Regions from separate parts of the Homo sapiens genome. Here region 2 is linked to region 1. A link means that fine-mapping ties the variant in region 1 to the expression of a gene that starts in the linked region. Tissue or cell type: monocytes. Region 1 holds a variant in brackets; the other region holds the start of a gene. All regions are shown on one strand. Distances are from middle to middle.

Region 1 (2,907 bases):
AACAAGAAATGTCACCCAGCAGTGGGTTCTGGGAGTTCAGGTTCTGGGGGTAGTTCCCCCAGCCCAGAGCACTAATTTGATGCTACTATCATTATTAATGATTATCATTGGCTGGGCACAGGGGCTCACAGCTGTTGTCTTAGCTAATTGGGAAGCTGAGGGGAAAGAATCACTTGAACCCAGGAGTTCAAGGCTGCAGTGAGCTATGATTGCACCACTGTAATTTTGTAGAGACAGAGCAAGACCCTGTCTCTACAAAAGAAAATGTTAATTATCACTAATATTAAAATTATTTTACATTATTATAAATTATTATAAAATGATAACTATTAACCCATTATATTTCATACTATTTATATCACTACTGGTAGTTATTATACCAGTAGCAGCAGCCATGTCTTGGGCCAGTTACATGCTTGTCATGTACACACCCTTGAGAAGATCTACAAAAGAAAGTCTAGAGTGTCCATTTTACAGGTCAGGAAAACTGAGGTTGTGCACAGCCAGAGTCCTTCCCAAGATGACTCAGCCGTGCTTTCCCCACCACGGGCACTTCACTCCGGCACACTCTGGGTCACTGAACCATGGCGAATCCGTTTTCAACATGAGCTGGCAGGAGGTGAAAATTATGATGGGTAGAAGTGGCTGTCCCCATTTCACAAACAGAAAACTGAGAAGGTGACTTGACCAGTTTTCCCAGGACCTAACTAAGTTCTTCTTCCTTTAGAACCAGCATGGGAGGCCGGGCGTGGTGGCTCACGCCTGTAATCCCAGCACTTTGGGAGGCTGAGGCAGGCAGATCACCTGAGGTCAGGGGTTCGAGATCAGCCTGACCAACATGGAGAAACCTCATCTACTAAAAATACAAAAATTAGCCGGGTGTAGGGGCACACACCTGTAATCCCAGCTACTTGGGAGGCTGAGGCAGAAGAATTGCTTGAACTCGGAAGGCAGAGGTTGCAGTGAGCCGAGATCTCACCACTGCACTCCAGCCTGGGGAACAAGAGTGAAACTCCATCTCAAAAAAAAAAAAAAAAAAAAAAGGCATGGAGATGGTGGACTCTCAACCTTGAACATCTCTGAAGGTTCATTCTGAGTGGAGGTGGGAGCAGGCAGGGGGGTCTTAGAGCCATTTTCAGTATTTCAAAATAGCCCGGGGAAAAAGCATATACAGCTCACAGAAACCAAAAGCCATCTTTTCCTCCTCCTCCTTCCTTCTCTCCTTCTCTTCCCTGTCTTCCTCATCTCTCTTCTTTTTCCCTTCTTCTCCTCTTCTGCCTCCTCTTCCTCATCCTTCTTTTCCTCCTCCATTTCTTCCTCCTTCTCCTTCCCAGTTAGCAGAAGCCAGGTTGTAAGGTCACCATCCATTCCCATGCACATCCCTCAGGTCTCAGGCTGCAGCCTTATCGGGGCACACACCCTATCTCTGCACGCTGGAATCCTCTCCTGCCCCTACCCCACTGGTGAGCTCAACTCATAGCCCCCAGCCCAAGTTTGCAGTCAGTGTTTGCTTGAAAGACTGGATGAGAAAGGCCGGGCTCTGTGGCTCACGCCTGTAATCCCAGCACTTTGGGAGGCCGAGG[C/T]GGGTGGATCAGGAGGTCAGGAGATCGAGACCATCCTGGCTAACACGGTGAAACCCTGTCTCTACTAAAAATACAAAAAAATTAGCCAGGCGTGGTGGTGGGCACCTGTAGTGCCAGCTACTCTGGAGGCTGAGGCAGGAGAATGACGTGAACCCAGGAGGTGGAGCTTGCAGTGAGCCGAGATGGTGCCACTGCACTCCAGCCTGGGTGGCAGTGCCAGACTCCGTCTCGAAAAAACCAAAAAAACAAAAACAAAAACAAAAACAAAACTTGATAAGAAATTCCTCCTATCTGCCAAGCTTTTACTGTTCCTTCTCTTTCAGTCACATCTACAGGTTTTCTTGGTGAAATTGTAAAGGGCAAGAATGAGGAGCCCACCCATCGCCCCAACCCTGCTCCTTCACTCCTGCACAGACACCTCCCCACCAAGGAGGAAAAGAGGGAGTTGGCTCACGCCAACAGGAATTGGCCCCTAAAATTTTTGTTGTCTCGATCCAGGTGTAGGCCTTGTCCAGCACAGCACTCCTTATCATAAGAAATGGCAATATTAATAAGGGCAGCAGCTCAGGGGGTTGTCTTTACTAACGTGCTCAATACCATACTAGGCACCTGCCATGCATATGCTGCTCACAGTGATTCTGTGAGTAAGCAACAGCATCCTCATCTTACAGGGGAGGACGCTGGGTGTCCAAGAGCAGAAGTCGTGCCCAAGGTCACACAGCAAGGAGTACCAGCCCCATGACTCACAGCCCAGGGTTCCAAGCAGGGCTGCCCTGTGGCTTTCCCCAGGCTCATCCCCAAAGTGGCTCAGAATCTGGTCCACTCCCCCTGCTGGTCCTTGACTTGTCCATTTTAGACGCTCTGGATTGATTCCCCACTTTCTAAGGTGAGAACTTAACTTGGACGTCACTATCTGCATGCATGCAGCTTCCCCTCCCCCGGCCCCCGGTGAAGGAGGGGTGCGTTTTCAGTTGGAGTCAAGATAGACCTGCTGGCTGCCGGCTCTGCTCCAGAATGTCAACTCCTCTGCAGTTTTGTTCTTCCCCTTCTCCTTGCTCTCTCCTAGAAAGCCTGTTTTTGCCTTTGCTCACTGACAATGGTCTAATGGCTCTCACAGTGAGTAAACTCTTTTACAGAAGGAATAATTCCACATCTCCACCTTATTTGTTGACTCAGATGGCTCATTTATTTATGACAATATAAATATTGCCCACAGCTGAGCTGCTGTACATGTCCTATGATTACCTTTCTTTTCCTTTCTTTTTTTTTTCTTTCTTTTTTTTTGGGGGGGGAGACCGAGTCTCACTCTGTGGCCCAGGCTGGA
Region 2 (2,907 bases), 390 kb after region 1:
CTGCCTGGGCCTCCCAAAGTGCTGGAATTACAGGCGTGAGCCACCGCGCCCGGTCCAACTTTCTTTTTGTTAAAATTTTCCTGGTGTGGTGATATTAAGAGTCTTTGACAGTCCTCCTCCACCCTCACAGGATTCTGCCTCCATTTGATTCTCTGTAGGCTTGTGATTGCTTTGACCAAGAGTCTGACAGAATTGGTGTTAGGTGACTTCCAAGGCCATGTTATAATTGGCCATGGCGCTTCTCTCTTGTTCACTGGAATGCTCACTCTTGGAGCCCAGAGCCACCATGTAACAAGTCCAGCTGCCCTCAGTCCTTTATGCTGGAGAGACCACATTGAGGCACTCTGGTCAAACACAAGCCGAGTTCATCTTTTAGCCCATCTCCTCCCAAGCAGTAGACATGTGAGTGGAAAAGCCATCTTGGAAGCGGGCCCTCCCAGCCATCAAATCATCCCAACAGAGGCTACAGACATAATGAGGCAAAGGCCCACCCACTCAGTTCCCCTTTCAAATTCCTCACCATGAAATTTATGAGCATAATACGGTGATTGTCCTTCAAAACCACTAAGTTTTGGGGTGGTTTGTTAATAGAACAGTAGATAACGGGAACACCTTGAATATGTTTTTCTATGCTTTTATTTTTCCAGTGTTTTATGTATTTTTGTTTTGTGTCTCTTAGAAATAACAGCTACTCGGGAGGCTGAACCCAGGAAGTTCAAGTGAGAATCACTTGAACACAGGAGAATCACTTGAACCCAGGAGGCGGAGGTTGCAGTGAGCCGAGCTCGCACCATTGCACTCCAGCCTGGGCGACAGAGCGAGACTCCGTCTCAAAAGAAAAAAAAGAAAGAAAGAAAGAACATGGGTTTTTTTCCCCCAATCTGAGAGTCTCAGAATCAAATTCCTGAGGAGGAAGTGAAAACCTTTCACAGTTAGTATGTATGCACAGTAAAGCCCGAAACCGCACATTAAGTCTTTCTGCCTTTAGACCCACATCTTCCCTGCCCATTCTTCCTCTAGGAAATCTGGCGCCCAGTTTTCTCTGCGTAGTTGGCGCGGGGCTTCAACTCCCGGCGCTCCTCCAGCTACTGGCACCTCCCTGGCCTCCAAGACGTCTACCAGACCTGCGTCTGCCCGGGGAAACTTTGAAGTTCCCTTCGGAACCTCGCAGGCTGACAAGCAAGTCAGAGCGATGGGTGGAGGAGGTTGCCATGGAGACAGGTCCAGGGCCAGAGGCGCGGGAGGGGGAGGCGGCAGCTTGGGCTCCGATTGGCTCTGCGGGCGCGCAGCGTTCCTCTGGCGCACATGCGCAGTGACGCCGAGGCGAGGTCGCGGCTAAGCAGAGGCGCCGGGGTTTCTGGGCCGGGCTTCTCAGGACCGGGCTGGAACGTGCAGCTCCTGGCCGGGACACTCTGTGCTTTGCGGGGAAGGGAAGTGGCGGAGCCCGAGGATCCGCTGCCGCTCGGGACTGAGCCCGCCACGCAGGCGCCTGTGCCAGCGTCGCCATTGTTGCCTGTGGCCTTAGGGCCGCTCCGGCTGCCCGTCGGCCGGGTCCCAGCGACAGGTATTGATGTCCGGGCGCAGCGCGCGAGTGTCCGCGCGATCAGTGACAGCCCGAGCCCGTCCACGCGCGGGCTCCCGTGCTCGTGGCTTGCGGGAGGGCAAAGACGGGGTGGAGGCTGCTGTGGGCCCAGTCCCAGCGTTGCGCGTCGCACGGTCCCCGACTCCCCCGCTGCCCTCGACCTCGACCCTGCGGCTGAAGAGGAGTAAGAGGCAGAGGGACTTGGCCGGGAAGGGGAGGCGACAGGAGGCAAGGCAAGGCTGTCGCATCACCTCCGCAGGGCCTTGTAAACAGTTGTCTTTGGTGGCACGACTGTGCCTCAGCAGGGCTCGGAGCTGGAGCCTGGGGAGAGGTGGTGTCGGTTCTCCTCCAGATCAGGCCGGTTCTAAGGTTTCCTTCGAGAATCCTGGTTTCGAATATATCCCTAAAGAACTGTCTCCTATAGAAGCACTTAAAGGACTTGAAGTCACACCAACCTCTTCACTCTTTTCCAGTCCAACCCGCTGGTCTTCCCAACCCTCTGATAGTGAAAGGCTAGAATCGGCTGGCATTAACATGCAACGCAGATAAATGGCTCGCCCTTTCCCCTGACAGTTCCCTTGGGAACCTTGAGCACTGTATTAAGAAGAAATTCTCCTAGTTTCTTCCAAGTAACAGATTCACTTTGTTATTGTTGAGAGTCCGTTCAGTCATTACAGCTTCTGTAACATCAGTGACTAAAATAATGAAACTATTTTCTCTATAAAAATGTTTAATTTTTGTTACAACAGGTTAGAGGTTTAATCTGTTGTTTGGCTTAGATTCGAGTCATTGCCTCTGACACTACCTTTTTAATAGCAGCTCCATCCCCCACCAACCCCAAGCAGATGGCAGTTCCCTTACAAGTCTAAGGATATAGGGGAGGAAGACAAGGTAAAGCTTATGTGTGTTCATCTATGCACACTGCGAGTCTGTTTCTGTGTGTGTATATGTATAGTAGAGTACACCAGGGATTCTTGACCTTGTGGTCCATGCTTGTGTTTCAGGGTCTCTTATCCATCCCTGCAAGTTCTGGGCTCAGAATTTGTCACTAAGGCTGCTAACTCTACCTTGATTCTGTTCTGCCCTCGGCTGCAGCAGCCTTTGATATAGTGTCCTTGTGACTCTAGCATGAGACTTCAAGCAGTTGGCTCACTACTGGAGAAATAAAGGATATTGCCAGATTGACTCTCCTGTCTGTAGCAATGTTAGCCTCAAGCAAGAGGATGAACAGTTCTTCACGTTCTCAAATCCTTCTAAGGTGGAAGTCAGACAAGGCTCAGAGTGGACCCTACAATGTTGAGAAGGAAATCCTTACTTCAAGATTC

Evidence for each region. PIP is the estimated chance that this variant, and not a neighbour inherited with it, causes the effect. A credible set is the group of variants that fine-mapping cannot tell apart.
Region 2: it holds the start of ZNF287, and the variant in region 1 is the best candidate, but not a certain one, in a credible set for the expression of ZNF287 in monocytes (TOPMed, PIP 0.67).

The regions. Positions count from the first base shown.
Region 1 is chr17:16,962,474-16,965,380 of GRCh38, reverse strand. The region is part of intron 1 of TNFRSF13B (TNF receptor superfamily member 13B); the gene reads left to right. Among named protein-coding and RNA genes, the nearest start is that of TNFRSF13B, 8.2 kb to the left of the region's middle. RefSeq lists an enhancer at 549-818. The variant C/T (reference allele first, on the strand shown) is at 1,584.
Region 2 is chr17:16,567,609-16,570,515 of GRCh38, reverse strand. ZNF287 (zinc finger protein 287) reads left to right here and starts at 1,312. Exons shown (of 6, transcript NM_020653.4): 1 at 1,312-1,564; 2 at 2,587-2,907. The coding sequence starts at 2,785. RefSeq lists enhancers at 1,248-1,747, 1,748-2,249.